Linked DNA regions of Homo sapiens. The protein of the gene in region 2 purifies or fractionates together with the protein of the main gene of each other region. This does not show direct contact. Each region holds a gene or a part of one and is shown on either strand. Other genes may lie near its edges. The genes, in order: LANCL2, LZTFL1 and SH3PXD2B.

Region 1 (3,654 bases), on a different chromosome or scaffold from region 2:
GAGATAAACACTAATTCAACTCAAAGTTTTGAAATTGGGTATTTTTCTTTTTAGCCTTTGTATCTGGATAAATGTGATTTTTGACCTCAGTTATATACCTGATTTATGTTGAAAAGAAAATTAGACTACAAGTAACTAATGGGGCTTGTGATATCTCTGCAATGAAATGTAAGTTGGGGTGGGGACCTATGCCAGTGGTTGTGAGTATATGCTAAAGAAAGAAATGGACATCATATTATTCTTGAATATGAAAATGAGAGCACGTTGAAGGGAGAGATGGATAGTGATTTTAAAAGGTGGAAAGATTGCTTCTTGGTTATTGGAAAGTCATCAGATAAAATGAATATGAGTTGAACACTGTCTTCCCTATTAATATTTTTTATGATTGACATTAAATTTTTGGTTTTAAAAATCTGTTAAGAATGCAATTTGAGGATATCACACTATGCACTGTTTTTGATAGACATGAAATTTCATGAAAATGAGGGTGTTATGGGTTGAATTGTGTCCCCCACCAGAAAAAAAGGTATTGAAGGTTGAAGTCCTAACCCATTGGAACCTCAGAATGTGACATTTGGAAATAAGGTCATGGCAGATGTAATTAAGATGATGTAATACTGGAATATGATGGGCCCCTAATCCAATATGACTGGTGTTCTTATATGAAGAAAAGAGAAGCAGGTATGATGGCTCATGCCTGTAATACCAGCACTTTGGGAGGTTGAGGCAGGAGGATCACTTGAGGGCAGGAGTTCAAGACTAGCCTGGGCAACATAGTGAGACCCTGTCTCTTTTTTAAAAAGAATTGTAAAAGAGAAGAAAGAGACATAGGGAGAAAGAAGATGGCCATGTGATGATGGAGGCAGAGATTGGAATTGCCAGCCAACACCAGAAACTAGGAGAGGCAAGGAAGGATTCTCCTCTGTAAGTTTGACAGAGAGCATGGCCCTGTTGATACGTTGATTTTGGGGCTGTAGGCTCCAGAACTATGAGAAAATAAATTTATGTGGTTTTAAGCCACCCAGTTTGTTGAACTTTGTGGTATCCCTAGGGTAACTTGTTAATTTGTAAGTTAAGCATTGAATAATTTTCTCTCCATGATGTTACCGAGTAATGATTACAAAAATCTACCAACACAATAACATTTTATTACTAAGTATTCTTTAAGTCATTCACTCTATCTCATTTTAGTTTGGCTGCCTAGGTATGTGGTGTGATCAGTCAATAAAATTATCCTCTGATTCTAAAACCACTCAAGTCGGCTTCTCTGGGCCATATTTCCATAAATTGGTATTTATAACATTTTTTACAATATTGGGCCAATATTATGAAAAGCAGTGAACCAGTGTAGTAGCAGTTGTTTTTAATTATGGAAAGCCTGTGACGCAGACACTCTTAGTTACTCATCTAACAGCCATTTCCTCCTTTTTACTTGATTTTGTTGTGGCCGTGGACTTAAGGGGAATTGAGCCCAGCTCTAGGAGCTGAATCATGATTAATGTCTTTGACCAGCAGCAGCAGCAGCTTCAACTGATGTTCAAGTCCAACCAGGAGATGGGTACCATGCAGAGTTTAATAGGGAAAGTTTAACTTAAAGAATTGTTATGAACTGTGAGACTGGAGTAACAAGAGATTGTCTCATGAGAAGGAAAGAGAACTCTGAAGAGTGTAGGAATAGCAGACAGAAGGAGCAGCCCCACCCCTAGGGCTGAGAGGGCACTCGAGTAAAGGCCCCTGTGATTAGCTCTGTTGCTGTGTAATAATTATCCCAACACTTAGCATCTTTATAAACACTTACGATCTCATGCAGTGTCTGAGAGTCAGGAATCCAGCTGCAGGTTAGCTGGGTGGTTCTGGCTCACGGTCTCTGGAGAAGCTGCACTCAAGCTCTGAACCAGGGCTTCTGTCATTTTGAGGCTTAACTGGGAGAGAGAATCTGCTCCAGGCTCATTCACATGGTGGTTAGTCGGCCTTGCTATGTGTTTTCTGGAGGCTTCAGTGTCTAACCACATGGGCTGCTCCTTAGGGCTGCCTCATGACATAGTGGCTGTCTTCCCTGAGACTGAGTGATCAAAGAGAAAAGTATGCAAGAGCACCCAAGATGGAAGCTGCAGTCATTGTATTTATTATGTAATCTCAGAAGTGACATACCATCACACCTGCCATATTGTATTCTATTAGAAGCAAGACAGTAAATCCAGCCCACGCTCAAGTGGAGGGGTTATACAGGAGCATAAATACCATGAACTGTAGAGTCCTCAGCCAGGGCTGAAATCTTGAACTTGTCAGAGAGGTCATTGCCATACCTCATTGGTTGGGAGAGAAATTGCTGTGATACTGCACCATTGCTAGGTGTAGCCTCCAGAACCCTGCAATGAGTATTACAGTAAGTGACAATATGTAAAGAATATCTTGGGGGCACAAGAGAAGAAAGAAGACGTGTTAATTCTGCCCATTCGCATCAGGGAAGGCTTTTTAGACTAAAATGATACTTTCATGGTCCTTGAAAGATTAAGTGGGGGTTTTCTAGGCTCAGTTAGGGAACTCCATGAGCAAGGACTTAAGGGATACCACATTATGAGAATATCAAGGAGTACGGCATGACTGGAGAAGAGGGAGCGTGAATGGCACTGGGGAGTATTGAGGCCGAAGACAGTGATTGGAGTTGATGCTGAAGGACTTGATGGATTGGAAGGATTCTTTTAAAATGAAATTTAAAATTGTATATTTAAGGTATACCACATGGTGTTATGTGATACATATAGGTAGTAAAATGGTTTCTATAGAGAGGCAAATTAATATATTCCCAATGTCACATAATTACCCATTGTTTTTTCTGTGGCCAGAGCTGCTGAAATCTATTCACTTAGCGTGAATCCCACATCCAGTGCATTTTTATTACCTGTAGTTTTCATGTTGTGCCTTAGAGCTCTAGACTTGTTTGTCCTGCATATCTTCCATTTTGTATCCTCTGACCATTTCCTCTCCTTCCTTCAACCCACTGCCTCCGGTAATAACTGTTTTGTTCTCTATCTCTGTATAGTTTTGGGTTTTGTTTTGTTTTTTTTCGAGACAGGGTCTCACTCTGTTGTAGGCTGGAATGCAGTGGCATGATTGTGGCTCCCTCCCGAGCTCAAATTATCCTCCCACCACAGCTGCCTGAGTAGCTGGGACCACAGACAGGTACCACCATGCCCAACTAGTTTTTGTATTTTTTGTAGAGACAGGGTTTTACCATGTTGCCCAGGCTGGTCTCAAACTTCTGGGCTCAAGGAATTTTTCCCAGCTCATATGCTGCTGTTTCATTTTAAGAATTGTTTCCTTTGCTGTGCAGAAGCTTTTTAATTTGATATAGTAATATTTGTTTATTTCTGCTTTTGTGCCATGAGCTTTTGGTGTCATACCAAAAAATTATTGCTATGGCCGGTGTCCAGGAGCTTTTCCCCATGTTCTCTTGTAGGAGTTTTATAGTTTCTGGTCAATCCAAAGGACTTTACAACTTTTTCCACAGAAAAAAATCAGGAAAACTTGTCTGTAATTTGATACAATCTTAAGCTATTGGAAATGCTTCAGTTTATAATTATTTAATTTTCCATATTTTTGTTTTGAAGCTTTAAAATTTGTTTAACCTCATAATATATCATGGAAGCATAA
Region 2 (3,654 bases):
TGAGAAGTGGTATCTTAAGCTACAGACAGACATCTCTGAACTTGAAAACCGGTAATAAAATTTGAACTTGCAACTGTGACAATAATGGCCCAAGCATAATCTTAAAAGTTAGTGAACATCTTTGGCTGCATATTTTCTTGGGGCTAGTGTGTGAGGAAATTTGGGTAGGGTAACAGCAAAGCATTGAGTCACTGAGTGATCTCTTGGGTACCACTAAGCACCCTTTTAAAAGTTCTCTGTTTCTACTGTTCCTAGGTATTACAAAGGCCATCGAGATTTATGAAATTGCTTTTCAGGCTATCATTAATTATTTCTTACAGCATTTTTGTTAGCTTGGTCAGTATTACCATCAGTCTTTATAGATTGGTCAACTAAGAAATAGAGATTATGAGACAGTTGAAAAGTCAATTCAAATATAATAAATACCATCAATTCAATCCAGTAGCATTGGAAGTTTTCTAAATAATGGAATTTAAAAGTATACATTTATTAACTTTGAAATAGGAAATATACAAAAAAGCTTATAATATGGACATCTAAGAGCTCAAATTCAAAAAATATGGTAAAATTGGTGAAGTTGAAACTCATTTTAAGAAAAAGCATGCCAGAAATCAGGAAGGACTGACCGCCAAGCCCCGTGAACTACTCTAAGCACAGTCACAGCACATCAGTTCACATGCAGAGTGTTGAACAACGCTGAGGACAACCTATGAGCTGGGGAGGAAAATCATTGAACTTCTGCCACTGTCAGTAGATGACTGGTGAGAAAACTCTGAGAAGGTGGTGCTTTAAGAAGCTTAGAAGCTGACTGCTGTTAACACTCTAAGCTTGTGTGTAGTCACTTCTCATTGGCCTTTGCAAATCTTCAGATGGCACACCCCCACTATCTGTCTTTCCTAGGAATTTGTGGTACTCTTTTTCAGTAGATACTATGGACTATTTTCATTTTTCTGAGACTACTTTATTAAGAATCTTTTTTGAACACCTACTAGCTAACAATACACATTATGTAATAAAACAGTCTCCTCATAGCACCTCAAGAATACAAAGTTGACTATAAATTTTCCTCATATTTGTATTAACATTATGGTTTATTTCTAGCAGTAGATATTGCATACCTAGTAGATACAAAATGCCAGGTACTGTGGATGATTACATTTGAGTCCATGTGGTTTAGGTTCTCAACCATTTGCAACTAACATTTTTGATATGGTGAAGTTTGGTCCATCTTGCTCTGTTCTCTCTGGCATGTAATGGGTTGGTACCAGTGATTTTACTCTTCTTGCGTGTGATATAAATCTATTTTAAATGAATAATTTTTATCTTTGCTTTCTTCTTCAAGAGAATTATTAGAACAAGTTGCAGAATTTGAAAAAGCAGAGATTACATCTTCAAACAAAAAGGTAACTTTTTGGTCATTCTAAATCCATATCTTAATAGCCAGTATTTAAAATCCTCAAGTTGCTCAAAGAATTCAGAGATCAAAACTGAGAACTCTTAAGGAAAAGCATTCAATTCAAGAGTAAAATTCAGAAATTGTCTATCATATTTTCAGGCAAAAGAAAAAATGTTTTGGAAGTAACTGTGAAAAACTGCTTTTGTCTGTGATGGCTTACACATACACATGATCCCTAAGTTCAGTCTCAATCCCACTCATAAATACTCTACTCAGAAGATTCAGAGCGCAGGCTGTAGGGTCAGCCACACCTGGGTATACATCCTGGCTCTGTCACTTCCTGGCTGTGTTACCTTGAGCAGGTTATCTGAGGTAGCTGAGCTTCATTTTACTCATCTGACAAATGGAGACAATACTAGTAGTTATCTACCTCTCTTTCTAATCATTCTCATTAATTGGAGTGGCCACTTACCATTCCACTTCACGGGCACACCGTAAATACTCCATTGTTGGATAAATACTGCTGAGATGAATCTATGTACATACACATGCAAAATACTTTCCAGTTATTCCTTTGGGTCATATTTATGGCTAAGAAATTTCTGGATCAGAGGGCATGAATTATTTTATTTTTAATATATATTACTAAACTACTATATTATTTGTGCCAAGTTATTGTTTATCTGTATTATACTTGCCTAGATCTTCATCAATATTATTGTTTTTCACAGAGTCTAAGGTTCATGTAGAAATCACTGTTTCAGCTCCCACAGGCTAAAATTCTAGTTGCTAGATGCTAGGCTCTATATCAGATCTGGCTTTGAGCTCCTTCCGTCCCTCCTTTCTTCCCTCATTTTCCTTCTATCTATATATTTTTAAAAGATACAGGGAAGATAGGTTTTATTTTTGTCTCTAACATGTATGGGGCACTGTAGGACAGGCATATCCTAGGCACTGGGAGTAACAAAGGATGAAACCAACAGAAATCTCCACACCTGTGGAACTGACATCGCAGTGAATATGTTTATATATAGTATCTTCCACTTGCAAAGTGCAAGTGTTCAATGATTATACATGCTTTATTCTGTGGTGATTTCAGTTTGGTTTCTTTATTTTGTTTCAGCCCATCTTAGATGTCACAAAGCCAAAACTTGCTCCACTTAATGAAGGTGGAACAGCAGAACTCCTAAACAAGGTAATATTATTATTTTGAGAAACGGAAAGTCTCTCATTCTGTCCTGTCATTGCCTAGGGTGGAGAAACAGAAGTGGAAGGTTTGTTTCAGGTCCTCTGAGGATAATTAGTCCATTGCAGTAGTTTTACTTGATGGTACCCCATGGGCCAGAAGAGGGCATACTTAACCTTCTAGAGAGCCTGAAGTAGCTCCTGATCACACCTTTTCAAGGTAAAGTGAAGAGCATGAAATTTTGGACAGCGTTTATTGATGGACATTTAAAGTTTGTGATCTGCGGTAACAAGGAGAAGGGTTTTTAAGTTTATAAAAATTATTTATCAATTAGCCGGGTGTGGTGGTACGTGCCTATAGTCAGAGCTACTCGGGAGGCTGAGGCAGGAGAATTGCTTGAACCCGGGAGGTAGAGGTTGCAGTGAGCTGAGATCACGCCACTGCACTCTAGCCTGGGCGACAGAGCGAGACTCCATCTCAAAAAAAAAAAAAAATTATTTATCAGCACAGGTTGAGTATCCCTTATCCTTGGGACTAGAAGTGTTTTGGATTTCAGATTTTTGAATATTTGCATTATACAGACCCCAGTTGAGCATCCCAAATCCAAAAATCTGAAATCTGAAATGCTCCAATGAGCAGTTTCTTTGAGCATCATGTCAGCACTCAGAAAGTTTCTGATGTTGAAGCATTTCAGATTTCAGCTATTTTTCATGACCCTTGTATTCTCAACATTATGCTAGATGTTGTTAGAAATAAAAAGCAGTGTAATACCTGCTCCCTTGCCCTCAAAAATGTAATAGTTTGGGTTTTTTATTGTTGTTTGTTGGTTTGTTTTTTTGAGACAGAGTCTTGCTCTGTCGCCCAGGCTGGAGTGCGGTGGCGTGATCTAGGCTCACTCCAAGCTCCACCTCCCGGGTTCACGCCATTCTCCTGCCTCAGCCTCCGAGTAGCGCCTGCCACCACGCCCGGCTAATTTTTTGTATTTTTAGTAGAGATGGGGTTTCACCATGTTAGCCAGGTTGGTCTTGATCTCCTGATCTTGTGATACGCCCGCCTCGGCCTTCCAAAGTGC
Region 3 (3,654 bases), on a different chromosome or scaffold from region 2:
ATGGTGCATCTTGGCTCACTGCAACCTCTGCCTCCCGGGTTCAAGCGATTCTCCTATCTCAGCCTCCCAAGTAGCTGGGATTTCAGGCAGCTGCCACCACGCCTGGCTAATTTTTGTATTTTTAGTAGAGACGGGGTTTCACCATGTTGGCCAGGCTGGTCTTGAACTCCTGACCTCAGGTGATCGGCCTGCCTCGGCCTCCCAAAGTGCTGGGATTACAGGTGTGAGCCACTGTGCCCGGCCAGCAATGCCTCTTGACTCAGATTCTGCAATTCACGGGCTGAATGATCTGGAATAAGTTACCCGGGGTTTCTGGGCCTCTGTTTTCTTATCTGGAGGATGGGGGAGCAGCTGGGCTGCTGTGAGGATGAGGGACGATGTGAGACGCCTTGAGCACAGAGCTGGCACACAGGGGCCCTGATTATCAGGAGCTTGGGCGGGTGTCACTCACTCTGCTTGGCGTCACCGTCGGGCACCGGGCGGCCTTCAAACCGCCCGTCCCTCTGGCTGCTGAGCAGCTCCTTCTCCCTGCCCACCGCGTTCTGCTGCCGGGAAACACCATCCAAGTCAAGGGCACCCGGGTGGGAGGGTGAGCCAGGGCCTGGCTTCGGGGGCAAGGGCTCCCCACTGTTCTTCTTTAGGTAGGAGGCGGGGGCCCAGCCTTCTTTGCCCTGGTACCTGTGAAGAGGAGGAAGGATGCTGTCAAACTGCTCCGCCAGGCCCAAGGGAAGAAGCCTTGCTCCTACTGGGAATCACATGACAGGTCCCAGGGAGCAGGAACGACGGGTTGTGACTGCCCAGGGCAAGAGGTTGGCACACACTGTGCATTTCCTCTTGATGATGCCTAAGCCCTGAGCTTGGTATTTTCAAGGCCTTTCCAACCCGGCCTCTACTTGCCCCTCTTACAGCACCCACCATGTCCCACCCAGCCAGCAGGGCACCAGCCTGGGCTCTGAATCTCTGTGCTTTGCTGCCTCTTCCCAGCAGCCCCAGCTCTGGGGCCAAAGCCTGGCATAGACAGATGGAGATCTGTTCACGCTGATGAACGTGGAGATTAAACATGCTTTCATATGGGATTAGCAGGTTGAGGGCTGGGTCCAGGGCTCGCCAAGTGGCAGCTGGCCATCACTAAACCGCAGAGTGATCGAGACCCTGACAGAGCAGCTCAGTGTCCTCCCAAAAGGGACTTCAATGAGTGTCATCATCTCTTAATCCTCTGCAGGAGACATTCAGTTTTTGAGATAGGGTCTCCCTGTCACCCAGGCCAGAGTGCAGTGGTTCGATCATAGCTCACTGCAGCCTTGAACTCCTGGGCTCAAGCGATTCTCCCAACTCAGTCTCCTACGTAGCTGGAATTACAGGTACACACCACCATGCCCAGCTATTTATTATTTCTTGTAGAGATGGGGTGTTGCTATGTTGCTCAGGCTGGTCTTGAGCTCCTAGACTCAAGTGATCTTCCTGTCTCGGCCTCCCAAAGTGTTGGGATTACAGGTGTGAGCCACCACGCTTGGCCAGAATTCAGTTTAACAGCAATGACCAGAGGGGCCAATCTAGACCAGGGGTGTGCTGCAGTCAGTCACACCAGCTGTGACAGCCAGTTGGGCACATCTCTCCCAATCTCTACATTTAGTGACATCACACTGATAGCTTGAAATTGACCATGGTGGCAGTATTTGCACCATGGCAACTGGCAAACACTGTAACTCAGAGTATTTTTCCTTGGAGAGCTGGTTGTTAAACATTTACCAGAACCCAAAAAAACAGGTGGCCAGACCTTTGGGGAAAGTTGAACAGACCCAATGGCAGGGCTGAATCTCTTGTCAAGAATTAATTTAAGAACTAAATAGCATTGGGTTTTAATGCAAAAAAAAAAAGGTCTCTCTTGACTGGAAGCAAATTTAAAAGGAGGTAGAAATCTGCAGTTTAGTGTCTATCAATCTTAAAATATGCTCTGAGAGGGAATATCCTAATTAGAAAGTGCCAGGCTGTATATAACCCACACGCTCAGTTTGACATAGTTCATTGTTTGGGGACACAGAGCCATAAGATGGGAGGCGATGTGCAGTGCTGACTGGGCTCTGGGGTGAGAAGGGAATGGGCTGAAATCCTGACTGTCACTTTCTAGCATCAGTCAGATCTTGAGATGACTGCAGCCCTTACTGACATCCTAACTATAACCTCGGGAGAGACCTTGAGTCTAATTAAGCCACTGCTGAATTCCAGAGCCACTAACTTTTGGGACAATTTATTATGCAGCAAGATAACATACTATTCAATATATGTTTGTTATCCTTTTTTAAAAAGTTTAAAAAAACTAATGTCTTTAAATTTTAGAGACAGGGTCTTGTTGTGCTGCCTAGGCTGGAGTGGCACCATCATAGCTCATCGCAGCCTCAAACTCTTGGGCTCGAGTGATCCTCCTGCCTCAGCCTCCTGGGTAGCTGGGACTACAGGCGTGCATCACCATGCCTGGCTAATTTAAAAGATTTTTATGTAGAGATGGGATCATGCTATGTTGCCCGGGCTGGTCTTGAATTCCTGGCCTCAAGTGATCCTCCTGCCTTACCTCCTCAAGTACTGGGATTACAGGCATGAGCCACCGTGCCAGGCCCATGCCTGCTATTTGATATGGTTTGGCTGTGTCCCCATCGACATCTTGACTTGAATTGTATCTCCCAGAATTCCCACATGTTGTGGGAGGGACTCAGGCGGAGGTAACTGAATCATGGGGGCCAGTCTTTCCCATGCTATTCTCGTGATAGTGAATAAGTCTCACAAGATCTGATGGATTTATCAGGGGTTTCCACTTTTGCTTCTTCCTCATTTTCTCTTGCCGATGCTATGTAAGAAATGCTTTTCACCTCCCGCCATGATTCTGAGGCCTCCCCAGCCATGTGGAACTGTAAATCCAGTTAAACCTCTTTTTCTTCCCAGTCTGGGGTATATCTTTATCGGCAGCATGAAAATAGACTAATACACTATTACTATCATTATCCGTTTTCAAATTTAGGTTCTGAGATCTCCCTCAGGAAGCCTTCCTGACCCCCAGGCTGAGGAGCCCCTCTTCTGTGTACCAAAGTCCCCATGCATCCCTCCAACATGGCCAACCCTCTGCTCTATCACCGTTTATGAGTTTGTCTTCTGTACCAGGTGGTGTGAGCTATTGTATCTTGCTCACTGTTGACTCCTCAGCTCCCAGAACAGGGCTGGGCCCAACAGAGATTCTTGGTGTGCGTTTGTTGAATGAATGAATGAATGCAGTGCTACATGCTCAGCCTCCTGGAAATGGCCCGAATGTCCCGCCACACATCACAGCGCAGACACTAGATTGCAGGGACCTCGGCTTCCTCTCTTGCCCTAATTTCCCATGGTCACATCCTGCCTATTGGGGGTGATCAAGGAGGGGTTCCCAGGACTTTCATTACTAAAACCAGGCAAGGCAGGACGAGCTGGCCACCCTGCCTGCCTGGGAGGCTCTGATATCATCACATAGGTGAAAGGGCTGTGAAAGGTGTTTGGAATGCAGACGCCCTGCTTTTACCATTGGACTTTGAGAGACGAGGGCAGATTATCAGCCTAGGACGAATTACAGTCCATGAGTGTTTATGCACCATCTTGTTCTCAGAATGGGGCGGGAGGGGGCTGTCACTC

What was found.
Region 1: the proteins of LZTFL1 (region 2) and LANCL2 fractionate together in Homo sapiens (co-fractionation; one large-scale study listed by BioGRID). This does not show direct contact.
Region 3: the proteins of LZTFL1 (region 2) and SH3PXD2B fractionate together in Homo sapiens (co-fractionation; one large-scale study listed by BioGRID). This does not show direct contact.

The regions. Positions count from the first base shown.
Region 1 is NC_000007.14:55,368,188-55,371,841, forward strand, and holds part of LANCL2 (lanC-like protein 2), read left to right. Parts: intron 1-3,654. UniProt on the Homo sapiens protein: Necessary for abscisic acid (ABA) binding on the cell membrane and activation of the ABA signaling pathway in granulocytes.
Region 2 is NC_000003.12:45,831,987-45,835,640, reverse strand, and holds part of LZTFL1 (leucine zipper transcription factor-like protein 1), read left to right. Parts: coding exon 1-51; intron 52-1,342; coding exon 1,343-1,403; intron 1,404-2,519; coding exon 2,520-2,591; intron 2,592-3,654. UniProt on the Homo sapiens protein: Regulates ciliary localization of the BBSome complex. Together with the BBSome complex, controls SMO ciliary trafficking and contributes to the sonic hedgehog (SHH) pathway regulation. May play a role in neurite outgrowth. May have tumor suppressor function.
Region 3 is NC_000005.10:172,349,912-172,353,565, forward strand, and holds part of SH3PXD2B (SH3 and PX domain-containing protein 2B), read right to left. Parts: intron 679-3,654; coding exon 452-678; intron 1-451. UniProt on the Homo sapiens protein: Adapter protein involved in invadopodia and podosome formation and extracellular matrix degradation. Binds matrix metalloproteinases (ADAMs), NADPH oxidases (NOXs) and phosphoinositides.